5 separate regions of the Homo sapiens genome follow, and all the other regions are linked to region 5. Evidence: fine-mapped expression QTL. A gene starts in region 5. Each other region holds a variant in brackets. All regions are shown on one strand. Distances are from middle to middle. Region 1 overlaps LOC102724682 (a long non-coding RNA gene). Region 2 overlaps EVL (Enah/Vasp-like). Region 3 has its middle 110 kb from the start of EVL. Region 4 overlaps EVL (Enah/Vasp-like). Region 5 holds the start of EVL (Enah/Vasp-like).

Region 1 (5,103 bases), 120 kb before region 5:
TTTGGGAGCCAAGGTGTGCTTGAGATTGTAGGTTGCTCAACCCAGGCCAAAAGAGGCTCCCAAGCCAGCTTGGGGGACTCCAGAATCCAAGGGCAGGTAAGTGGGCTGCCGGAGAGGAGCGAGAGCCAGGAGGGCCATGGTGGAGCAGGAGACAGTCCCACACGTGGAGGATCTTGCGTCTGCAGCAGCAGGGCAGCTCGATGCAGTGCTTGCCAGGAGCCAGTGTGGACTCTGCACTGGCTTAGCAACCGGCATTCCAGCATCTCCATGCGCAGGCAGTGCCAGGCAGGAGATCCAGGCAAGGTGGGGACAGCCTCAGCCACGTAGGGAAGAGAGAACATGAGGCCACGGGTCGCACTGGGCTGTCAGCCCAGTGGGGGCGGGGGGTGTGGAGGTGGAGGAAGCTTCCAGGCCGGTTGGAACTGGGGAGAGGCAAAGTTCAGTGGATTCTTGGCATTGGTAGATCTTAGGTCCTGGCCGCCGGGGTGAGAGGGACTCCCTGGCAGGGGCTGTCTTTGCTTCACTGGAAAGCCCATTCTGGCATCTCCCCAGCCCCCCACATTTTTTTGAATGATTACTCCCACGCCCAAAGGTTGGCTATTCCATTCATTAGCCATCTCTTCTGTGGTTTGGGAACAGGCTGCTGTCATCCTATCTTACAGGCACAGGAGCGCATAGGAAAGGGTAGATGGGGATGGTCCAATCCACAACTAGGGGGACAGGTTTTGGTGAAAAGGAGCTAGGGAACATGCGCTTGATGCAAGGTGAAAACTGACTCCAGACCTGTTCTTCCTGCAGATTCTCTTTTTTAAAAAAAACTTTGGCCAGGCGTGGTGGCTCACGCCTGTAATCCTAGCACTTTGGGAGGCCGAGGCAGCAGATCACCTGAGGTCAGGAGTTTTGAGACCAGCCTGGCCAACATGGTGAAACCCAGTCTCTACTAAAAATACAAATTAGCCGGGTGTGGTGGCACATGCCTGTAATCCCAACTACTTGGGAGGCTGAGGCAGGAGAATCGCTTGAACCCAGGAAGCGGATGTTGCAGTGAGCCGACACCACAACACTGCACTCCAGCCTGGACAACAAGAGCGAAACTCAGTCTGAAAAAAAAAAAAAAAAAACTTTACAGAAAATTTCAAACATACACAAAAGTAGAGAGAGCCTCTCACCCAGACTAAAAATGATCAGCGTACTCACCTGGCAGGGGAGATGCCGTGATCACGAAAGTGGTCTTCCTGGGGTGAGGCTTATCCACTGCACTCCAGACGTGCTGACCCCTGCAATTTCCCCAAAAGTGGGAAACTCGGCTGCGTCATCTGTGGTCATGGGGGCTGTGTTCATGCTTTCCCCTGGTTAAAGAAAAAAAAAATCAAACATTTAGAAAATCTTGTTTCCTCTGTCTCCCCTAACTTTTGGGGGAGATGGAGTTTTTGTTTTTGTTTTTGTATTTTTGAGACAGAGTCTCGCCCTGTTGCCCAGGCTGGAGTGCAATGGCATGATCTCATCTCACTGCAACCTCCGTCTCCCAGGTTCAAGCAATTCTCCTGCCTCTGCCTCCCGAGTAGCTGGGATTACAGGCACGCACCACCACGCCCAGCTAACTTTTTGGTATCTTTAGTAGAGACAGGATTTCACCATGTTGGCCAGGCTGGTCTCAACTCCTGACCTCGTGATCTGCCCACCTCAGCCTCCCAACGTGCTGGGATTACAGGTGTGAGTCACCGTGCCTGGCCAAGATGGAGTATTTTTTAAAACAAGCCTACAGGACTTTGAGACCAGCCTGGGCAATATACCAAGACCTCATCTTTGCAAAAAACTAAAAACTCAGCTGAATGTGGTAGAGTGCACCTGTAGTCCCAGCTACTTCAGGGGCTGAAGAGGGAAGGTCGCTTGACCCCAGGAGGCTGCAGTGAGCTGTGATTGCGCCACTGCACTTCAGCCTGGGTGACAGAGCAAGACTTTGTCTCTAAAAAAAAAAAAAAAAAAAAAAAAAAGCAAGTCTAAGCCACCATGTCGTTTCACCTATAAATACTTCAGTCTGCCGCTGTGGTGAAGACACTTTGTGTGAGGACACCATGACATCATCACAGCTGACAAACTTGATGATTTCAGTTTCTCGGGCTGTCAAGCCTGATGCTGTGTCTCAGAGCCTGGCTGCACAGGAGCCTAGAACAGCTGCCTGGCCTCCCTGCTGAGCAGTTCAGGGTCGGGTGTCGAGCGTGCAGCCCCCAGTTCTGAACCCTTCTCCAGAGCCCAATTC[T/C]TCCCCCCTGACCCCGCTGCTCGATGCCTAGTGGCATCCCTGCCCCTCCCCATCTCCTGCAGACGGGATGCTCAGTGCTGTCTGAAACCTGGGCTCCTTCCATCTCCTGCCGGATCCCTGGCTGTGCTTTAGGCCACCTCAGGAGACCCCCTTCTGGGCCAGACAGCCTGGATCTTCCCTACCTTGCTGGCAAGCCAGACCGGACCACAGAAGCCTTTCGGAGTACCAAGTTCCCTCTTGAAGGAAGGAGGCTTGTTTAAGGGGAGCCTCCCCTGCAGGAAGTCCGTGCCCTCCTGGGGCGTTCCAGGGGGTCCGCAGGTCAACTCTAAGTTTCAATAAAAATGGGGCACACGCGCACACCACCCTGCGCTAGGGAGCTGGGGCGGGGCTGCGGGTAGCACACACTTTCTCGCTGACTGCCCCGGATCTCAGGGGACCCCGGCGTGCGGGAAGCCGGAGGGGACGTGAGATTCAGGGGCTCTGGAACACAGGTGACGCCTGGGCTTATAATGCGGGCCAGTTAAGAACAAATTTGGCTATTTAGGCTGAAAACACGAGTAGCTGCTCTAGCAGACTGAATAAGTAATTATGAAAAGACCTTGAACTTGGGTTATAAATTGAAAACCTCCCCTTCCCAAGCCCCCTCCAGCCCCGCGGCCAACTGCAGGTGCGCCACCTGGTGGCAGAAGAGCAGAGCACCGCCCCTCTCTCCAGCTTGCCAGGGCTGATTCTGACCTGGGGAGGGTTGGGGTGTGGAGAGAGAAAGGGAAACTCTAGTTGACTTTCTGGGTGGGGCGTATGTTTCAACTGACCTTCTGAGAGAGCTTTCAGAGGTTCTTGGAGAACCCCAACGTTGCTGATCGCCTCTCAGCTGCAGTCCCCTGGACCTGAATGAAGGTGTTCTGTTTAGGTGCGGCCTCCTTCTGCAGCCCTGAAGCACCGGGAGGGCTGCCTCCATCGGCCTCCTTCCTGCGGAGATCCCACCGCCCTCCGGGGAAGCCCGCTAGACAGGATCTTAGACGACCTTGCTTGGATCCTTGCTTGGAGGTTCACATCTGGTCTCAGGGGACACTTGTGCCTCCCACACCCACACCTTGCACCAGTGGGTGGGCAGTTACTGCCTTCCACATGCAGCCTTCTCTGGGCAGCTGGCGCTTTTGAGGCACTGGTCCACAAATCGCAGATGGCACACCTCAAGCCCTCCAAGTGGCTTAGGCAGAAGTACCCTCCCTGGTCCTCCCTCAGGAGAAGCAGGGTTGGAATCAGCAGCTCAACTTTCTCCCAAAGAAATCCTCCTTGCAAATATTACTTCTGAAAATGTCTAATTCCCAACGCTTTAGTACTCTTATCGTGGATGAGGATGCCCAGGAGGTGTCTCGGGAACCTCTTTTGTAACTGCTGCTCATGGTCTAACAGTGCCTCTGGAAGACACATCTATTGGATCTTGGCTCCTCGGCTGAACGCTCATTTCAACATCCAGTTACATAACCACAAACATTATTGCACAAGTTTTTTGTACATGTTTGCAAGAAATTATCTGGGATCCTACCTGGAAATGGGACTACTGATTTTCTGGGGCATGCATTAAATATTGCCAAACCATTCTCCACAGCAGCTCCACTGGCAGCCTGGGAGTCTCTGTTGCTCCACTTCCTCATCCATATTAGGAATTGTCATTTCATCTCATCTCATACAGACCCGAGAAGCAGGATCCATCGCCCCTCTTTGAAGAGAAGAAAGAGGGTATATTAGGCTGTTCTTAAACTGCTATAAAGAAATACCTGAAGGCCGGGTGCGGTGGCTCATGCCTGTAATGCCAGCACTTTGGGAGGCCGAGGCAAGCAGATCACTTGATGTTAGGAGTTCCAGACCAGCCTGGCCATGGTGAAACCCTGTCTCTATAAAAAATACAAAAAAATTAGCTGTGCATGGTGACCCATGCCTGTAATCCCAGCTACTTGGGAGGCAGAGGTGGGAGAATGGCTTGAACCTAGGAGGCAGAGGTCGCAATGAGCCGAGATCACCCCACTGCACTTCTGCCTGAGCAACAGAGTGAGACTCCGTTAAAAAAAAAAAAAAAAAAAGAAAGAAAGAAAGAAAAGAAGAGAAAGAAAGAAAAGGAAATACTCGAGACTGGGTAATTTATAAAGACAAGATGGCTGGGCATGGTGGCTCACACCAGTAATCCCAGCACTGTGGGAGGCCGAGGTGGATGGATCATTTGAGGTCAGGAGTTCGAGACCAGCCTGGCTGAAATGGTGAAACCCTGCCACTACTAAAATTACAAAAATTAGCTGGGCATGGCCAGGCACGGTGGCTCACGCCTGTAATCCCAGCACTTTGGTAGGCCAAGGCAGGTAGATCACGAGGTCAGGAGTTCGAGACCAGTCTGGCCAATATGGTGAAACCCCATCTCTACTAAAAATACAAAACTTAGCCAGGCACGGTGGAGCGCACCTGTAGTCCCAGCTACTCGGGAGGCTGAGGCAGGAGAATCGCTTGAACCTGGGAAGTGGAGGTTGCAGTGAGCTGAGATCATGCCACTGCACTCCAGCCTGGGCGACAGAGCAAGACTCTGTCTCAAGAAAAAAAAAAGAAAAGACGTTTAACGGGCTTATGGTTCTGCAGGCTGTACAGGAAACACGGTGCCAGCATCTGCTTGGATTCTGGGGAGGCCTCAAAGCAAAGAGCTTTTATTCAAGGCAGAATGTGAAGTGGGAGCAGACAGTTCGCATGGCAAAAGCAGGAGCAAGAGACAGCGGAGAGGAGCAGGTGCCACATGCTTTTAAACAACCAGATCTTGCAAGAACTCACTTGCTATCACGAGGAAGCACCAAGGGGAT
Region 2 (5,103 bases), 56 kb after region 5:
AGTCCAGCGGGCCCTGGAGCAGGCCAGCCTGGACTTGAGCCTTGGCTGGGTCTCAGCCTCTGTCCTCCTGCAGCTCTTTGTGTTCAGAGAAGAGGTCAGCCAGGGAACCTATGGCCCGTCCTGCTACCAGTGGTGAGCCCTGCCACCAAGGGCTGGACCCACATGACACCATGAATGCCCAGCCACCCTGCTCTTGTTTGATGTTGGACCTGAAATTTCCCTTTCTCTTTTTCATTTGTCTGTGGCATGATGGGTTCTTTTATTTTTCCTTTTTTAATTTTTGAATTTCTTCTCATGCTTGTTTCCTATCTCATCCTCTTTATTTTGACTTGACAAAATTTGTCTGAGATGAATGAGAAGAGGGTGAGAGTTTTCTTAGTTGGAGTCCCAGGTGAATGGGCCAGGCCCCTGCCTCGGCAAAATCAGCTCCCAGACTCAACAAGCTTGGGACACTGGGGCCAGCGTCACAAACCCTGTGGCTCTGGGCAAGTCCCCTCACCCCTGAGAACCACCACCACTCATCCCGTATACTTCAGGGGGCCGTGGTGGAACCAGCTGGGCAGTGAGTGCACGCAGCCTGTGGAGAAGAAAGCGCTCCACCGAGGGGACCACACCAGCAAGGCTTGGGGGGCAGAGGGCCACTTAAGCCAGCACATAGGCAGGTTCCCGTCCAACTCAGCAGAAAGATCAACAGTGTGCTTTCAACAGTAATGCGAACAAATATTTCCAGCACTTTATGGATTACCATGTGGTTTTTACTCCTAGAGTTTGTTTATTCCTCACCGCAGCTTGGTGAGGTACCACTGTTAGCGTTAGTGTATTAGGACTCCCATTTTACAGATGAGGGCACAGCAGCTTGCCTAGGGGTGCATGACTAGGCAGATGTGAGGCAGAACTTAGGCCAGGTCCTCTCGTGCCCACTGCCTGCCCAGGTTAGTACCTCATGGGAACAAGACAATTAAGATGTGATCCGCAGACCATCGTTGCCATACATTCACTGTACAAAGGAGGGCACCTCATGGCCACAGAAGGTGACTCTGCGCTCTGCCACTGTGTGCAGAGCCACAGGGTCCTCTAGCAGAAAGGCATCTGAAACTCACAGCCCTGAGAAAAAGGCTGGGTCAGCAGCTCTGTGACTTTAGTTTGTCCCTAAGGCCTCTGGTCAGCAGAGGGTACCTGGTGCTGGCAGGGCATCGTTACACTGCTGCATCCTCTCTGGACAAGCATGAACTTGGGGGACCCCTTCTAATCCCTATATCTCCGTGGCTCACCTCCTAGGTTTTTCTTTTCACTCAAGTCAGTTCAGCATGACTCCTTCACCTGAACTTTTCCCCAAGGGTGAGTGAGCTTGAGCCCCCTCTCCCCTTCCTGACTTAGTTCAGTGGAATATGAACTAAGTGTCTGATGCGAGCCAGGCTATGAGCGTGGAGTGCGGAGTGAGACGTGCTCTCTGCCTGCAAGAAGCCCAGGGTCTAGTACAGAAAAGAAGGCAGCTCCCAAATTACTGGAATATGGGTGAGAAAGCTGTCAGTTTTTAAGAGAGGCGCATGGGCACCGGTTGGTGAGAAGGAGCATGAGGACCTGGGGAGGGCTTCATGGAAGAGGTGACCACTGAGCTGGGCCTGGAAGCCTTGCTTGGTGGAGACGGCAGGAAAAGGTGACCCACATGGGTTGAGTAGCGCACAAAACACAGAGAGACAGGAAGCATGGTGGGGCCGGGCCCAGTGTCCAGGTGCAGGAGGTCAGCTATGGAGGACTGTCGGGGAGGCGCAGCCACAAGGTGGCCTGGGGCCTAGGCTGAAACCTTGAATCTTATTCAATGGAGCCTGGACCCAACCCTGTGCAGGTCATGTCTGTGTTTCCCAGACATCACTTAGGCCACACTGTCAGAATGAGAGAGAGTGGAGGTGAGGGTCCAAGAGAGAGACGCCAAGGCTGCCAGGTGGCAGCAGAGAAGCAGGGTGTTTTGTGGGGCAGCCGACACAGCACCAACAAGACTCCGTTACCTAACGAGCCGTGGGAGGCAGAGAGGGAAGAGCTGGGACTCCCACCATCCCCATCGCCCTGACTCCTGTGGAATCCAAGCTCAGCTCGGGCGACGAGAGGTGGCTCCAAGGTGCTCATCTGCAGCACGGGACAGGTGCCACATCCTCCGCCTTGGCTTCTGCCTGCATCACGCAGGGAAGTCATGTGTAGTGCCTCACCACTAGACACGAGGGAGTCTGATTACTAGCAGCCAGGAGCCTTCCTTAGCTACTCCTCCCACTGAACAAGCACCTGCCAAGGGGCTGCTGCTTGGAGCTTCCCAAGGGCCACCAGCAGTCTGCAGCAATGACCTTCCCTGTCCCTCCCCCCGACTGCCACGGGGAAGCTGTGCCGGGGGACGGAGGAGGCCAGGAGTAAGGGGGCGATGGGAACCTCAGGTCTGTCACAGTTACCCTGGGTGACATTGGACAGACCCCTGCGCCTTGCTGGGCCTTAGCTCCCACCCCTAAAACAAAAGGACTGTACTTTTATAATGTTCAGGGCCATGGTGGCTCAAAACAATTGAACATTTTCTTCGTTTAAGAAGAATGGCAAGCCTTACGTAATCAGTGCAATCAAGTGTTATCCTTTCCTGCTCTGTCGGGTCTAAAACTCCAGCCAATTTTTAATCAGGTCTTAGGTGCAGGGGCCAGAGCCCTCTGGAAGGGCCAGGGCTCCTATTAGACTTTCCCAGCCTCTGGAGAAACAGGTTGGGAGGGTGTTGGGAGGACGTCAGCCCAGCAGGCAAAATGGGGAATCCAAAGCACACAACCACACAGGCCTGTGTGTGGGCAGCTGGCTGCCATCGGGGTCCTGACAAGGGTGGAAAACAGTTACAGTGACCTGGGCAAGGCCAGACCACAGACACAGAAGGATCTTGCGACAGCTGGTGGAGCCCAAGCGTGGAAAGGCCTCCATCCTAGGGCAGGGCCAACCCTCAGACCAAATGCTAGACAGGGTCGCTGGGACAGGGACTCAGC[T/C]CCCAGAAGGACAAAATCCAGATCCAGGAGTGAACTCAGCCGTTGAGACCCGGTCTTAGAACAAGGCAGATGTCCAGTTGTCCAAGCCAGAGCCCAAAGCCTGTGCCAAGCTCACAGCAGAGCAGCTCAGGTGCAAGTCCCGGACGTGGAGCTGAAACGCCAGGAATCCCTCCCGCCTCAGCCAGGATGAGTGGCAGTCAGGGGGCGGGGGGACACATGCCCACAGCACCTTGCACACCATCCAAGGGCAGCTTATGAGTCTGCCACATTCATCCTTCTTTCTTCAAGCTGGTCTCAATCTGACACCACTGTCTGATTGAGTTTAAGAAAGAACGTGGCATTTGCAGTTGGTTTGCATCTGCCACTTGCTGTATGTAAGACCTTGGGCAAGCCATTTAGCCTTTCTGGGCCTGGCTTCCCAGCTGTTACAAGTCCTTATGGGAGCCTTCTTATAGGGCTGTGAGAATTAGAGTTAAATTTAACATTAAATTTTAAAAAGTGCCTGGACGTTGCTCTGGTAATAATGTTCACATATTCATTCCTTCTGTTTCTTGAGAACAAGGAGGGAAGAACCACTAAGACCTTGGTCCTCTATGAAGTAGGAGGGAACAGGGCTGTCCCCACATCATCAGTGCAGTTGTAACTTGAATATTGCTGTGACCCCATCCTGCGGCAGAAACAAAGCCACTTCCCCATCTTGTCAGGGAGGTATGAGAGCAGCCTGCCCAGAGTCCCTCTCCCAGTCACTGCGACTCTCTGCAGTTCCCTAGTGACACCTGAGCTGGCAGAGAAGGAACAGTCAGCTCTTTCTTAGGTGGCGGCAGAAGCTTAACTGTGGCACAGCATGGGAAGCCCTGCACAGGCCCCAGCTCCAGCCTCCTCTGAACAGGAGGTCTGCACAGCAGACTTCGCCTATGCCGGGGTCCCTCCTTCAGGGTCCAGGGCAGGGTGTGGCCAGAAAGTTCCACACCAGTCTAGAACAAGGGGAGCAAGGGCAGGGTCTGGCTCCTTCCCACCCGCAGCTCCAGACACCCTTTGTAGACAGCAGGGGTCACCCCAGGTCTAGAAGCATAGGCCTCAGCTCAGACACACCCAGGTTTTAACTCTGACCAAGACATCCGCCAGCTGTCAGTGTCAGTCCTTTGCTCAGAAAGTGGAATCAAGTGGACTTGTTAGGTTTGGCAATTCCCAGTTCCCCGCTGATTTTAATTAGAACATCCTGGTGGGATGTAAAGAGGCCAGATTCAATGTTAAAGGGTTGAGGGGGTGGTGGCCAGCAAGAAGGTCGAAGCAGTGAGAAGATAGTTTGAGAGAGAAGGCGAGCAGGGTCAGTAACTGAAAGGGTTAATTTTTAACCATGTGAAAGTTTGGGTCTCATTTATTGGTTCAGAATGAAGAGCCGTGAGAGAGAGAGGGTGATTGAGAGAGGAGATGGAGTGAGTGATGCACAGGTGTGAGTGAGGCCAACATTTAAAAAGATTCTTAAGGATGTCTCTTCTGCAGCCAGAAGGTGGGCAGAGATAGAGAGCACTCCAGTTGGGTTTGCTGGGGCCTTTCTTCCTCTAACCACACTGTTTCTGTGCTTCTCTGCCCACAGGCCCCTCCAGCCAGCGTCAGGTGCAGAATGGCCCCTCTCCTGATGAGATGGACATCCAGAGAAGGTAACCCAGCACCCGCAGGGGCCAGGCTGGTCATCTCCCAATCAGGCTGGGTGGCCAGGGGTGCCTTCAGCGGGTGAGGATGCACCAGCAGCCAAGGCCAGGACTCCTAGAGGCATACACTGCGGGAGGGTGCAAGGTGCAAGCCAGACCAGGAAGAAAGAGGGGGCCGATGCGCAGCCGCTGGTCCCGGACACCAAGACCAGGAATGACTGTGGGAGTCTGGCATTCTACAGAGAGTGCTGCTGACCTCCAGCGGGACGGCTCTCAGGGTGACCCAGCAGGGCCCAAGTGCTGCTCCCTTGTTGCCTCACTTGCCCTTCCCCAACGTAGCAGGAGGCAGTCCAGGCATGAGGGATTCAGCCTGTTGGGGCAGTCACGCCCATGGGATGGGGCTAGGGACCATAGGAATGAACCCCCTCACCCCATGGAGCTTCTAA
Region 3 (5,103 bases), 110 kb before region 5:
TGATGGTGATGATGATGGTGGTGGTGGTGGTGCTGATGATGGCAGTGATGGTAATGGTGATAATGTTGATGCCAATGATGTGGTGATGCTGGTGATCATGGTGGTGATAATGGTGGAGATGGTTACGGCGTGATAGTGATGATGATGGTTGTGATGTTTCATGGTGGTGGTGATGGTGGTGATGCTGCTGCTAGTGGTGATGGTGATGATGAAGGTGATGGTGATGTTGATGATCATGGTGATGATGATGATGGTGATTGTGGTGGTGACGATGATTGTGATGCTGAGGTGATGGTGATGGTGGTGATGCTGATGATGGTGGTGATGATGATGATTGTGATGCTGAGGTGATGATGGTGATAGTGATGGTGATGATGATGAGGATGATTGTGATGCTGACATGATGGTGATGGTGGTGATAGTGATGGTGATGATGATGATGATTGTGATGCTGAGGTGATGGTGATGGTGATGGCGGTGTTAGTGGTGGTGATAGTGGTGGTGATGCTGAGGTGATGGTGATGGTGATGGTGGTGATGCTGATGATTGTGGTGATGATGGTGGTGATGCTGATGGTGGTGATGATGGTAATGATGATGGTGGTGATACTGTTGTGAACTCCCAAAGTTTGAAACAGGTTTCAGTTAATTTAGAAAGTTTATTTTGCCAAGGTTCAGGACACACCCGTGACACAGCCTCAGGAAGTCCTGACAACATGTGCCAAGGTGGTCAGGGCACAGCTTGGTTTTATACATTTTAGGGAGACATGAGACGTCAATGAATATATGTAAGAATTACATTAGTTCCATGCAAAAAGGCAGAGACAACTAAAAGCAACCCCCCCACCCCTTCCCTTCCAGGTCACAGGTAGGTGAGAGACAGATGGTTGCATTCTTTTGAGTTTCTGATAAGTCTTTCCAAAGGAGGCAATCAGAATATGCATGTATCTCTGTGAGCAGAGGGATGACTTTGAATAGAATGAGAGGCAGATTTGTCCTGAGCGGTTCCCAGCTTGAAGGGGCCCAAGATATTTTCCTTTCACACTGGTGATCATGGTGGTGATGGTGGTGATGGTGGTGATGGTGATGGTGGTGGTAATGATGGTGATAATGATGATAATAAAAAATACTAAAGGCCACCCTTACTGAATGCCATTTCTCCACAGTGTACTTGTGCTTTATATGCTCCTTCCATCAACATTTAGACAGGCTCAAATATTTCCTGTTAGAAAAAAACCTTCCTGGTCCATCCCTTTGCCACAGAGCTCTCTCGGGGCCCTCTTCTCTTCTCCCTCCACCTTCTCCCCAGGTTATCTCATCAGCTCCCTGGGGCCAGCCGCCTCTTCAACCCTTACAAGGTCCCAATCACTATCTTTGACTCAGCCTGTCTCCTAGCTTCAAACCTCTGTGTTCAACATCCTGCAGGATGTCTCCATCTGCTCATTCACTGGAGCCTCCATCTCTACATGCTCAAACCCAATTCATCCACTTCTCCCCCAAAAACCCGCATGCCATCCTCCCAGTGGCCCATGCCAGGCATGTGGGTGTTCCTCTTGCCTGTATCAGCAAGCAGCCAATAAGTGACAACCTCGATAGCATCACTCAGCGAGCTCTTACCCACCCCTTGCCAGGTACTGTTGGAGGTGCCTTATGCATGACGGCTCCTTCAACACTCTCAACAGCCCTGTGAGAGGGTCACACAGTGAAACAATTGGGATTTTAACCCATGTAGTCAGGTTTCCAAGATCACACTCAACCACAGCACCATTCTGCCTCTTCCAGAATCGAGGGCTCTGCTCCATGAGGAGCCAGGGCACGTGTCCACGTCATCTCTCCACGGATGCTGCCTATGCCCTGGAGGGCCACCATCACTGCTGGCCTGGCTGCAGCCATGTTGACCTTCCTCCAGGCAGTCTGAGTGACCTTTCCAAACCATAAATCTGACCATATCACTCTCCTGCTTAAAAATTCTTAGGAAAAAGCTCCTTCATGTTACACACAGGACCGGTCAGTGAGCTCTGGTTCCTCTCCAGCACCATCTCTCAGCTCCTGCCACAGAGCTTTTCTCTGTCCAACCACCACGGCAGCCTCTCGTTGCCACCTGGTCTTTGCTCATGCTCTGTGCCCCCAACCCTCTTCCTCTCATCATTCTGGCCAACCACCATAACTTTCAGAACTCAGCTCAAAAGTCACTTCCAGCAGGGCACAGTGGCTCACACCTGTAATCCCAGCACTCTAGGAGGGCAGGGCCAGTGGATCATCTGAGGTCAGGAGTTCGAGACCAACCTGACCAACATGGTGACACCCCGTCTCTACTAAAAATACAAAAATTAGCCGGGCATGGTGGCAGGCACCTGTAGTCCCAGCTACTCAGGAGGCCGAGGCAGGAGAATCCCTTGAACCCAGGAGGCGGAGGTGGCAGTGCGCCAAGATTGCACCACTGCACTCCAGTGTGGGCGACAGAGCAAGACTCCGTCTCAAAAAAAAATAAAAAGTCACTTATTCCGAGAAGGCTTCCCTGAGTGCCAAGGCTGGTTCTTGTCCCTCCTCTGTGTCCCCACCTCTGTTGTACTTCCCTTCTCATGCTGAATTGTGGGTGTAGGTTTATGTGCCTCCAGCCTTTCTGCCAATCAGCACCCTAAGGTGGAAGCACTCTGCATCTCGGGCACTCTTCTTTCCCATCACCTAGCACAGTGCCTGGTGCCCACATGTTATCAGAAGTGTTTGGTGAATACATGAAGGAGTGGACTGTGAGCCTCTGAACTTGCAGTACCCTTTGCCCTTCACACTTCACCCTGAGCATCTTTTCTTGCTTTGGGTGTTTTGCTATGGCAGAGGAGACTGCAGTGAGCAGCTGTCCACTGAGCTTTTCTTTTAGTTAAATTTATTTCTTTGAGGCAAATGCCCAGAAGTGGAATTACTGAGTTAGCAGGCAAGATCATCTTTATGTCTTCTGATATGTTTTGCAAAAATGAATTCCAAAATTATGGTAGCAATTTGGTAGATTTTTTTCTTTTTTAGCAACCTAATCCTCTCTCCCTTTTTAAGTGTCTTCCTGGCGGAAGCCACACAAAGCTATTTTTACCTAAAGGCTGTAAACCTCATCATTCTCCAAGGAGAAAGTCGGGCATGTGTGAGGAAG[C/CT]TATCTACCCACCTCACAGGCTCATCAGCCCTATGCTCTTGCCAAGCTCTAGGTCATTTTGGAAAAGCAAGTTGAAATTATATTCCAAATTAGGCAGTGGTTTTGCGAAAGAAGGAACACACACACACACACACACACACACACACACACACACACACACGTCACACACATATTCATCTCCATTTCGGGGCTAAATTATGAACATCTTTATCACTCAAAGAAACCAGAAAGTTATCAAAGCAAAACCAGTGAACTTTGCCAGGTGAATGTTACGAAGTTTGGACGTGGAAGTAGCTCGGAAGTTGGGGGATCACCTGGTTTTCACACTTTGTTTCAACAGTGTGATGGTTAATTTCATGTGTCAACTTGACTAGGCTAAGGGATGCCCAGAGAGCTGGTCAAACCTTCTTTCTGGTGGTGTTTGCGAGTGTCTCCAGAAGAGAATCAGTAGACTAAGGAAGCTTGATCTCACCAATGCGGGGGTAGGGTGGGGGGGCTGGGGGGTCATCATCCAACTTGTTGAGAACCTGAACAGAACAAAAAGGTAGAGGAAGGGCGAACTTTCTCTCTCTGTTTGACATCTACTAGGACATCAATCTTCTCCTGCCCCAGAACGTTGAAGCTCCTGGTTCTCAGGCCTTTGGACCTGGACTGGGATTCCCACCACCAGCTCCCCTTGTTCTTAGGCCTTCAAATGTGAACTGGAACCACACCACCCGCTTTCCTGGGCCACCAGTTTGCAGATGGCTGATCATGGGACATCTCAGCCTCCATAATCGCATAAGCCAATCCCCCATAATAAATCTCTTTCTATTTGTCTATACACTATACATCCTATTGGCTCTGTTTCTCTGAAGAACCCTGACTAATACCAGCAGCAAAACCTTTTTTCAGATGAAATCATACAAGAAAATCCACTCTGTAATAAGGTTAAGAATGGGGCTGCTCTGGCAGAAGCAGTCAGAGGTGGTGGTGACTCAGAAGCACTCTCACCCTATCTTGTTCCTTCCTCCTCCCTAACACCCCCTGCCCTGGCCACCTCCACCTGCCCCACGGGGCTCCAGAGTCTGCCATCTTGGAGCGGCCTCTGGAGGAAACAGAGGCTCAGGGAGAGGAAGGACCTGCCCAAATCCCCACAGTGAAGGGTGGCAGAGCGGGGTCTACCTGCCGGGCTCCTGGCTCAGTCTTGGGATGGTTCTCAACTATTGTCTTGACAGGAGCCTGCTCAGTTATTCACAGTTACAATGCACATCTTTTCAAGGACGGCCCGAGGTGGCTGGTTTCCCCCAGTGGTTAACCACCCAGGTGCCCCCAGGTATAGTTTGGTTTTAAAATTCTTCCAATTTAAGTTCCCCTATTACCAACATTTCTACTTACTTGATTTTTAAGAAAATCACCCATTGCATGTAGAACAGGTGGACATTTATTGAAATGCAACTGCAATAACATCCCCTGGAAATTAACTTCCTCTCATTTGCCCCTGTGAGTCTGTCTCATTTCTCATTCCTTCTGTTCTGTGCTTTTTTTTCTCTTTTATTTCTTGCACATTGTGAGTTTTCAATTTTTTTTTGAAGAAGCATATTTTAATTTTATTTTTCAGTATTTCAGTTATCTAATTCACTATTTTCAGCTTTTATCTTTATTCATTTCCTCCTCATAATTTCTTTTTATTTATTTTGCTGGGTTTTTTTGTTCTGTTTTGTGTGTTTGTTTGTTTTTTGAGATACAGTGTCATTCTGTCTCCCAGGCTGGAGTGCAGAGGCAGGATCTCGGCTCACTGCAACCTCCGCCTCCCATGCTCCAGCAGTTCTCCTGCCTCAGCCTCCCGAATAGCTGGGATTACAGGCACCCACCACCACACCCGGCTAATTTTTGTATTTTTAGTAGAGACGGGGTGTCACCATGTTAGCCAGGCTGGTTTTGAACTCTTGACCTCAAATGATCCGCCCACCTCAGCCTCCC
Region 4 (5,103 bases), 30 kb after region 5:
AAACAAACAAAAAGAATGAAATATGGATATATGCGGTAACATGGTGAATCTCATAAAGATTGTGTTGAGGGAAATAAGCCAGAAACAAAAGAGTACATACCATATACCACAGGAGTCCATTTCTATGTAGCTTAAGAACAGACACATTTTGCCAATGGTGTTAGAAATAAGAAACATGGTTATCTCTACAAGTGAGTGTTGGGTGATGGGTACTAAATGAAGCAGCCTCACCCAAAAGTGGACTTGCAAAAATGCACGTGTTCAGGTGGATCCTTTGACTCACTCTAAGCAGAGTAAACAAAGAGGTGGAACCATTAGGTACTGAGATTTTAGCTGTTGGCTGGTCAGGTCTGGCAGTTAATAAACACTGGCCACCTCAACAAATGGTCAAGTGACATTGGCCTTGTGTCACTGCACATACATCCAAAACACATTGCACTGGACTCTCCTGTTTTAGAAGTCAATTTTCAAATAATAAATATAAATTTTGTAATGGTCATGTCTCTCTAGCCATTTGGCTTACAGGGATATATCCTGTAGAAATACATCTTCACAGGAATATTCAGTGCAGTATTATTTATAATATTATCTTCATCTTACATGTGAGGAAACTGATATGAGCAACTTGTCTAAGGTTATACAGCTGAAAAGTAATAACGCCAGGGTTTTAATGCAGAACCCTCTGACGTAAAACCCTCTGCTCATTCCTTGTACCTAGTATGCTTGTCTTCAAAGCAGTCATAGACCGTTGGGGGCTGTGTGTAGACACCAAACAGCAGCAGTTGGTGAGCAGCCTTTGTACTGCAGTTGTAGATAGAACAGAAACGGCAGGGCCAGGGGCCTTCAATCAGCGACCAAGCATGTGTGGCAGAGCCCAGAGAACTTACAGAACTGGGATACGTCCTCTAGAAAGGCTTCACTGCACTCTCTCAGTCCCATATCCTAAAACTTCCTGAGTTGGAAGTGATTTATGAGGCTCCAAAGGTTAGTGCTAGGACCAGAGAGGGAATTATAGGAAGAAGGATTTCAGCTCATTATACAACAGTCCTCCACTTAGCTGTGGCTTTGCTTTCTGAGGTTTCACATACCCAAGATCCACTGCAGGCTGAAAATATTAATTAAATGGGAAATTCCAGAAATAAGTCATAAATTTTAAATTATGTGCCATTCCAAATATTATAATTGTTCCATTTTATTATTAGTTATTGTTGTTAATCTCTGACTATGGCTAATTTATGAGTTAAATTTTATCATAGGTATGTATGTATAGGAAAAAACATAGTCTATATAGGGTTCTGTACTACCCACATTTCAGGTATCCACTGGGGGTCTTGGAACCAATTCTGCATGGATAAGCGGGGACTACCATACTGGCAACAAAAAAAAATCACGAAGTCCTCGGCTTCTAAATCCAATTTCCCCATTAGCTTACTGTGTAACTTTGGACAAGTCACTCATTCTCCCTGGACCTCATTTCCTGACTGTAAAAAGAGCGGATTGAGTTAGATAATCCCTAAGGTGCTATTTAGCCCCTTCAGTGGTTGTCTGCTGGCCATATTGTCCATATTCTGGATTAGGCGTCATCTGCCCCTCAATTCTCATTTCCCCCCCAAGAGCCACTTTGAGGTTTGGAAAAAAAGAAAAATTCTCACTCATCTTAAGTTCCTCTCTAAGAATGTAGCCAACCAGAGAGTTCAAATCATAGGGTTCTAGGCCAGGCCCAGTGGCTCATGCCTGTAATCCCAGCACTTTGGGAGGCCAAGGCGGGAGCATTACTTGAGGTCAGGAGTTCGAGACAGCCTGGTCAACATGGTGAAACCCTGACTCTACTTTAAAAAAAAAAAAATTGGATGGGGCATGGTGGCATGTACCTGTAGTCCCAGCTACTCAGGAGGCTGAGACAGGAGGATCACTTGAACCTAGGAGGTGGAGGCTGCAGTGAGCCAAGATCGTGCCACTGCACTCCAGCCTGGGCGACAGAGCAAGACTCCATCTTAAAAAACCATACTACGGGCCAGGCACGGTGGCTCACGCCTGTAATCTCAGCACTTTGGGAGGCCGAGGCGGGCAGATCACGAGGTCAGGAGATTGAGACCATCCCAGCTAACACAGTGAAGCCCCGTCTCTACTAAAAATACAAAAAATTAGCTGGGCGTGGTGGCAGGCGTCTATAGTTCCAGCTACTCTGGAGGCTGAGGCAGGAGAAACGTTTGAACCCGGGAGGTGGAGGTTGCAGTGAGCCAAGATCGCACCACTGCACTCCAGCCTGGGTGACAGAGCGAGACTCCGTCTAAAAAAACAAAACAAAACAAAACAAAAAC[G/C]GTACTAAAAATTTTTTTTGTTTTAAATCAAGTCAAATCATAGGGTTCTAAATTTCATTTCCCCAGAATATCTCCTCACGTATCTGGAGACAGTAGTCGTGAGACACTAAAGTATCTTTTATCTTGCTTCAGTATCTCTTAACCATTCCTGATATAAGGTGGTTTCAAGACCTTCTTCAATTTTTAAAGCATTTTCCTCTGGCTTGCTTCAGTTTGCTACTGTCCACTAGAAATGCAACACCAAAAATGAAAACAAAAAACTTGAACACAGAACTTCTGATAGGGACTTACCAGGGCAGAATGGAGCAGGTTCTTCTCTTCCCTCATGCTGGTCACTGTACCACTGTTAATGTGTCCTATAATCTAAAGAGCTGTTTTCACAACAGTTAACTTTGCTGGTTCTTATTATTTGGTAGTTATTAGTTACTAGTTATTATTTGCTAGTTCTTATGAGTCCTTTTTCTGATGACCTATAACTAAACCTAGTCACCCCCAGTCTAGTTCTTTTGGTTTAGCTGTGTGTGCATGTGAATCTATACCCCTGGCACAAAGAGCAAAAAAACAGAGAACTACCCTGGAACTTGTGTGTAGTTGTTGGCCAAAATATGTGCCTGTCAATATGTAACAATTAAGTTGTGAAACAATTACAGGTTTTGTTGTTGTTGTTGTTGTTGTTTGAGACAGAGTCTGGCTCTGTTGCCCAGGCTGGAGTGCAATGGCGCAATCTCGGCTCACTGCAATCTCCACCTCCTGGGTTCAAGCGATTCTCGTGCCTCAGCCTCCCAAGTAGCTGGGACTACAGGCACCCACCACCATTCTCGGCTTATTTTTGTATTTTTAGTAGAGACGGGGTTTTGCCATATTGGCCAGGCTGATCTTGAACTTCTGACCTCAGGTGATCCGCCCACCTTGGCCTCCCAAAGTCCTGGGATTACAGGTGTGAGCCACCATGCCCAGCTTCAATTACGTTTTTTTAGCTGATTTAGTGTACTGTGTGTGTGTCCCCTCTTTCCCTGCCTGTGCCTGTCATAGGAAGACCCAAGCCCACCTTCCACCCAAGACTTGGAAAACAGCTTTTCTGGATGTCACTCATGTTTGCTGTCCTCTGGCTTTACCTTATCCAGCAGCACAGCAGTGTGGAGCAATAAAGGAAAGTGATAAATCAGCATAGAGAGCGTTATCCCCAACCTCAGATCACACAGTCCTTGCAACCTTAAAGCCAGACAAAATCTGAGAAATCATCTTGTACTTCTAAAGCAAAATCCTTTCCATGGCGTCTCTAAGAGCTGGCTCTCCGGCCTCATCCAGACTCTGCTTGCATACTTCCATTCGTAGAGATCTTCATATTTCTCCATTCAGTCACTGGCAGCCTACCTTGTGCCAGGAGCTGTGTCAGTTACTTTCTCATATATAATTTAATCCTCACAACACACTGTGAGGGTGCCATGCCATAGCCATATCACATTCTTCTCCATTTGACAGACCAGAAAACCGATCATTCATAAGTGTCATGATGTTAGATCATCTGACTCCAAGCTAGAAGGGATGGGAAGCAGAATGAGGGCTCCAGCCCCAGCATCTTTTCCTCCAGGGCACGACTTAGGAATATAGTCTTAAAGTACTTTGAAATAATCTTCTTTTAAATCTCTGAAAGAGCAGAAGTTTAGAGGTCAGGCAGACCTGGTGTTGAATCCCCTAGCAGCTTGTAAGCACCTGAATGTCTGGATTCTGTCGTCTCTGTATCCTTCCCTGCTGGGCCTGGCATTGCTCCTGGCAGTCAGTTGATGCTTTTTGATTGAGTAATAAGATATGAATAATGCTGTATACATGTGTGGTACATAAACTTTCCCAAGTTATTCTTTCGACACATAGCCCACTTATTAATGCATTCAAAGTACTAGACACTATGCAGAGGGCTATAGGAGGCATAAATATGAATTATAGAAGACTTGCCCTTAGGAGCTTTATATCTAGAAGGTAAGCTATAAATAAGATACGTATCACAATGTGATCTTCGCAGTAACCCCATTGGATTGGTAAAGCCAGAATTATTATCCCCATCTTATAAGTGGAGAAACTGAGCCCCAGCAAAGTGCAGTGACTGCCATGAGTGGAGTGGCTGAGAGGCAGGGCCAAACCAGAGCCAGGGAACCTGCCTCCCAGCTCAGCTGTTCATCTGGAGGTTGTAACTACATAGCATTATTAGTTAAAGGAAAGAACAGGTTTTGCAAACCCTCACTGTTCTATAGATTATGGTCTGAAAGTCTACCTGATATTGCTTTTCCCTTCTTCAAACCCCATCCCCATCTTCCTGTCCTCTCAAGGATACAGTATACTTGCTCCATCGCAGCGCCCTCGAGCTCACTTACATTTTATTTATTTACACGTATTTCTCTCTCCTTTCTCCTCCAGGTTGTGATCAATTATTCAATCGTGAAAGGGCTGAAGTACAATCAGGCCACGCCAACCTTCCACCAGTGGCGAGATGCCCGCCAGGTCTACGGCTTAAACTTTGCAAGTAAAGAAGAGGCAACCACGTTCTCCAATGCAATGCTGTTTGCCCTGAACATCATGAATTCCCAAGAAGGAGGTAAGTAGGGCTTTGTCTTGGCCTGATGCTGAGACCCTCTCTTGTTCTACCTCTGCCCTCCCACAGCTCTGGCTCTCCGGGTATCCTAGCACTGTCACTGCATTGAGCTGAGGTTGCATGTGTTCTCAGAGAAACCTGCTGCCTGCCTTTAGATTTAGAGATATTAACAATTCAGAGGAGGAAAGAATGGAG
Region 5 (5,103 bases):
GCCAGGAGTTTGAGGCTGCAGTGAACTATGATCACACCACTGCATTTCAGCCTGGGTGACAGCAAGAGACCCTGCCTCTAAAAAAGTAAATAAATAAAATGTTACCTTACATGGCAAAAAGGACTCTGCAGACGTGATTAAAGTTGTGGACCTTGAGATGGAGCGGTTATCTTGGATTATCCATTGGGTCCAGTCTAATCACACGAGTCCTTAAAAGTAGAGAACCTGTCCACACCGCGGTCAGAAAGAGATGTCACTGTGGAAGAAGGGTCGGAGCACTGCTGCGTGCTTTGAAAGTGGACAGAGGGGCTATGAGAAAGCAATGCAGTCAGTGTCCAGAAGCTGAGAGAGGTGAGCAAGAGAGACCTATGTGGAACTTCTGATGATGTTGGGCTTCTGACCTCCTATCATCTTACAAAACTCTAAGATAATAAGTGTGTGTTGTTATAAGCCACTCAGTTTGTGGTAATTTGTTACAGCAGCCGCAGAAAACCAATGCTGCATGGAAAAATGTACCTAACAAGAGCTTCAAGAAATAGTGACAGAATTAAAGAGGGAAATCCACAGTCACAGTTGAAGATTTCAGGACCTTTCCCTCAGCAGTTGATAGAATAATTAGACAAAAACAAACAACAGCAACAAAAAGTAACAAGGACGTAGACGTTCTGAACAATACTATTAACCACCATGACCTAATTGACATTCTAGAACACTGCACCCGACCAGTTTCAGAATACACATTCTTTCCTTGTGCATATGCTACATCCGCCAAGGTAGACTGCATGCTGGGCCATAACGCACATTTTGATAAATGTGAAAGGATTGAGATCATACCAGGAAAAACAAAGGAAGAAGTCACACCAAATATGTTCTCTGGCCCCAGTAGAATTAAATTGGAAATAGGTAGCAACAGATATAGGAAAACACCAAATATTTCAAAATTTAACGAAGCACTTATCAATAATCCATGGATAAAAGAAGAAATCACTAGAGAAAATTAAAAATATTTTGAACCAAAAGAAAAAAGAAAACTGCAATACATCCAAACTGTGGTTTGCAACTAAAACAGTGCTTAAAGGGAAATGTATATCATTAAAAGCCTTTTAAAATGCATTTTTAGCATTCAAAGTGCATTCATCTCTCCAATTAGAACTGATACTTCTTTTGTACTGTACTCTGTACAGCTGTTTTTCACTATATCAATAATATTTTAATGGATCTATTAAATATTTGCTAACATTATCAACCTCTTCTTTTCTAAACCATAAAAGTCCTTTAAGGACAAGTACAGTCGTTCTCAATTTTTTGTCTGTGATTTCTAACACAGTGCATGCTTCTTAGTGAGTTCTCAGTAGATTTTGAAAGAAAGATTGGACTGGATCTTACCTTCATGAGAACCCTGTGGAGATAGGCAAAATAAGTATAACCCCATTTTACAGTTGAGGCCACCCACTTAATAAACAAGTGACAAAGCCAAGTTTCCAGTATTCCTCAAGTGTTTTCCTTTCAGGCTCTAAATTGCTGACTTAAATGTCATCATTAGAGAGAGTTGTCTCCTCGGTAGAAGTACAAATTTTGTTCCAGAGTCAAATATGAAGACTTGATCAGTGGCCTGGCGCGGTGGCTCACGCCTGTAATCTCAGCACTTTGGGAGGCCAAGGCAGGCGGATCACCTGAGGTCGGGAGTTCGTGACCAGCCTGACCAACATGGAGAAACCCCGTCTCTACTAAAAATACAAAATTAGCTGGGCATGGTGGCACATGCCTATAATCCCAGCTACTCAGGAGGCTGAGGCAGGAGAATCGCTTGAACCCAGGAAGCTGTGGTGGCGGTGAGCCAAGATCGTGCCATTGCACTCCAGCCTGGGTGACAGGAGTGTGAAACTCTGTCTCAAAAAAGAAAAAAAGACTTGATCAGCTTATAGCCTTTATCATCTAGTCTTCTATTCTCTGGAGAGTCAGTGGGGACTCTTCCGAGTTCTTGTAGCCTTTTCTTAAGGCCTATAGGAAGTCATCTGTGCTGAGCCTGCACTTTCTATAACAGATGGAAAACTGAAGCTCAGACATCTTAAGTGGCATTGACTTAGACTATAGAGCTAGTTAGTGGGGGGCCAGCACCATGACCTGGCCCCTACCTCCAGCAGGCTTCACCCACCCTTGCACCCTTGCAGGAAGCACTTAGAGGCTTGAGGTTGCCAGCTGTGGGGGGTTGGGCCTGTGCAGTGCCTCTCAGCCGCCCACGCTGGTGGGGCTCTGCAGTGTTAGCTTCTTGTTTCTCTATTTTCTACCTAGGTTTCAGTTTTTCACTTGGGTTTGTTTCCCCTTTGTCTCTGGTTCAGCTTCCTTTTCCTGTTTGGTTTTAAGTAGGCTATAAAAATCAAGTTGCTGTCTTCAGAGGGTCTGTGGTCCTCTGATCAACATAGGCTGGTGGGAGTACAGGACTCGCCTCCTCAGGGTTCCCTGTGCTGCCACTTTTCAGCCATGGCCACAAGGTGAGTATTGGAACCAGTGCAGGGGACAGAGGGATGTCAAGAGGAAACCTAGAATCTTAACGGTGAATGGGCTGTAGAAATTATCTCAGGTCCCCTTAGTATACTGATCGAGAAGTCCATGACCAGAGGGCAGGGGGCTTACATGAGGTTACACAGCAGGTTAGTGACAGTCTGCTCCCTCTCTAGCCGCTGGTCTTTCCATTACACAGGCCTGTGTCTCTTGATGCCTGTGACCTTTAATGGCTTCTGAGTCAAGGACTTACTTAGAAATTAGCACCTGCCTCTCATTATAGGGAGGAGGGTCTGAGCCATCTAGGGGAATTGTTGTTTAGCTCAGAGGTACATTTGGTGAGTCCTGGCCCTTCTCTCTAGAATGACCCGAGACTGGTTGTTTTTTCTAAATATAGGCAGAGAGGGTTCTTTTTATGATAGGAACTTCATGAACTTAATAGCAAGAGTCCTGACCCTCCACTTGAGAGACTTGTGGACTTAGGCTATTGCTGTTGAGCACATGTGTGAATACCAGCCAGTCTACAAACCGCACTCCTCATTGAGATTGTTCTCTCTAAAGGTGAGATTACATTTTGGACCTGCCTCTCCCCTGCCCTACAACTCTGAAAGATTATAGATGATAGGACAGACAGACTTTTATCCTGTGGGGTTTGGGGCATTTGTTTGATTGACTCATGACAGCTTTGTTTTTTAGCATAAAGTAACAATCCCTCACTTTGAAAATTATTTCACAATTTCCAAAGTGCCATTTCGCCAGTTTTCTTATTTGAATCTTTTAGCCGTGTTAGATTGATGAGAACGCTGTCATCACTCCTGTTTCGTAGCTGAGAAAACCTCTGAAAAGTTGTGGGGTTTGTCCAAGGTCACATGGCAGGTTGGGGAAGGAATGGAACCAGGGTTTAACGAGGTTGGCCTCATCCGGTGGTTTTCGCAGCACGCTACACAGGCACAGAAGCAGCTTGCAGTGAGTTGTTAAAATTGACGTGGTGATAGGTAGAACTTGTCCAGGGCTGCTTATTTTCCAGTTGGCTTTATTTCTGATCCTGTCATTTTAGTAACTTTCCTTTAACTTTAGAGGACTCGTGAGTGGAGCTTTAGAAAACAGAATGCTTTTCATTTCAAAGGCATATCAACTTCCAAAGTCATTTTCAGTTGTAAATTACATTGTGAAAACTTCTAGCAGCTTATTCTACCGTGTCAATTACTAATTGCAGAAAATTATATCAAAAGTAAATGAGGCACAGCAATTTCTTTTTCAATTTTAAAATCGTAGAAATCCTAGAAATTTCCATCTTGAAAAGACCTTGGAGGTGATCTACAGTAGATAAGATGTTTTGGGCACCTTATTCTCCACTTCAGCCAAAATAACTCTGCTTTTATGTTTTCTATGTATTCCTTGATAATTCATTGAGAAAAAACAGTCATTGTTGGTGGTGGTGATGACTTTCAAGTCTGAAGATTACACTAATCTAGCCCAGCTCTTGAGTGCGCAGATCAGGAAATTGAGGCCCAGTGTGGAGCAGAATTTGTGTACGGGGAGCGGAGTAGTGGCTGAACCAAAGCAAAAGCCCAGGTTTTCTGGTGCGTCCCTCCCCCGTACAAGGCTGCTTGCACTCTGCCACAGGTCCCTGGCCTGGCACCATAGTGACAGTCCTGGTGGAAGCAGCGTTCGTGGAGCTGCAAGGTCAGCAGCCATAGGAGCTGTGAACTTTTCGTTTTTCCTCATGCTGACTGACACATGGGGATACCGTGGCGCCTGTGGTGGGGATACAAAGGACCTTTTAAATGTGAAAATATATCTTACCAGCTCTAGCTCTGGCTACCCACCAATCAAGAAACAGTTTCCAAGCCCTGACTGGATTAGGAGCTGGGAATTCTCTTGAGTGCATGACAACGTACAGAATGCTTTCACTGACGTTATTTAGTTATCGCAATAATCCTGAAGGTAGTGTTGTGGGGCGTTTTTGTTTTTGTATTTTTTAGAGATGAGGTCTTGCTTTATTGCCCAGGCTGGCCTCAAACTCCCGGGCTCGAGCAAGCCTCCTGCCTCAGCGGGACTACAGGTGTGGGCCACCACACCCAGCTAGCATTGTTTTTATTGTTTCTGTTTCACAGGAGAGAGTAACTTGACAAGAGACATAGCCAGTGAGTGATAGACCCAGGACTTGAACCTGTGCCTCCTGACCACAGATGCTTTGCCCTTTTGCTCTTACGCCTGAATTAGAGCTGCCTCTGTCCTCAGGGACTGGTAGGGAGTGAGGAAGACAGCACTCACAGAAATGAGGAGGCGACTGGCTGTGAGGACCCTGCAGCACAGAGAGTAATAAGCATAGACAGGAGGGGCAGTAAGAGTTGAGAAGTTGGGGACTGTCAGGGAAGACCTCAAAGAGAAAGTGGGATCTCAGGTGAACTTTGAAGAATAGGGATGATTTTTTAGAAGGCACTGGCAGGCATCACAGGCAACCAGTCACCCAGCGGCTGCTCTGGGTGCTAGGGACACAGTGGTAAACAAGACAGGCAGTCTTGTCCTCAAACTGAGGGCAGAGTCGGGAGGCAGAATATAGTCAAGAAACCATCAACAAGAGACGTGAAAACAATA

Evidence for each region.
Region 1: its variant is fine-mapped to the expression of EVL in subcutaneous fat (GTEx, PIP above 0.99).
Region 2: its variant is fine-mapped to the expression of EVL in whole blood (INTERVAL, PIP above 0.99).
Region 3: its variant is fine-mapped to the expression of EVL in platelets (CEDAR, PIP 0.95).
Region 4: its variant is fine-mapped to the expression of EVL in monocytes (TOPMed, PIP above 0.99). The same link has a PIP of 0.9 or more in blood mononuclear cells.

What each region holds. Positions count from the first base shown.
Region 1 is chr14:99,944,126-99,949,228 of GRCh38, forward strand. It overlaps LOC102724682 (a long non-coding RNA gene), which reads right to left. Exons shown (of 6, transcript XR_007064328.1): 1 at 5,075-5,103; 2 at 3,810-3,983; 3 at 1,198-1,349; 4 at 1-422. It also overlaps the pseudogene RNU1-47P. Among named protein-coding and RNA genes, the nearest start is that of EVL, 120 kb to the right of the region's middle. RefSeq lists an enhancer at 1,988-2,916. The variant T/C (reference allele first, on the strand shown) is at 2,261.
Region 2 is chr14:100,118,937-100,124,039 of GRCh38, forward strand. EVL (Enah/Vasp-like) reads left to right here. Exons shown (of 14, transcript NM_016337.3): 4 at 4,603-4,666. Among named protein-coding and RNA genes, the nearest start is that of MIR342, 12 kb to the left of the region's middle. The variant T/C (reference allele first, on the strand shown) is at 3,006.
Region 3 is chr14:99,951,951-99,957,053 of GRCh38, forward strand. No RefSeq gene overlaps it. Among named protein-coding and RNA genes, the nearest start is that of EVL, 110 kb to the right of the region's middle. The variant C/CT (reference allele first, on the strand shown) is at 3,142.
Region 4 is chr14:100,092,748-100,097,850 of GRCh38, forward strand. It overlaps EVL (Enah/Vasp-like), which reads left to right. Exons shown (of 14, transcript NM_016337.3): 3 at 4,734-4,911. Among named protein-coding and RNA genes, the nearest start is that of MIR151B, 14 kb to the right of the region's middle. The variant G/C (reference allele first, on the strand shown) is at 2,322.
Region 5 is chr14:100,063,020-100,068,122 of GRCh38, forward strand. EVL (Enah/Vasp-like) reads left to right here and starts at 2,403. Exons shown (of 14, transcript NM_016337.3): 1 at 2,403-2,492. The coding sequence starts at 2,482. It overlaps LOC124903379 (a long non-coding RNA gene), which reads right to left and starts at 1,025. Exons shown (of 2, transcript XR_007064329.1): 1 at 111-1,025. RefSeq lists enhancers at 1,877-1,926, 2,277-2,366, 2,417-2,496, 2,547-2,686, 3,067-3,146 and 2 more.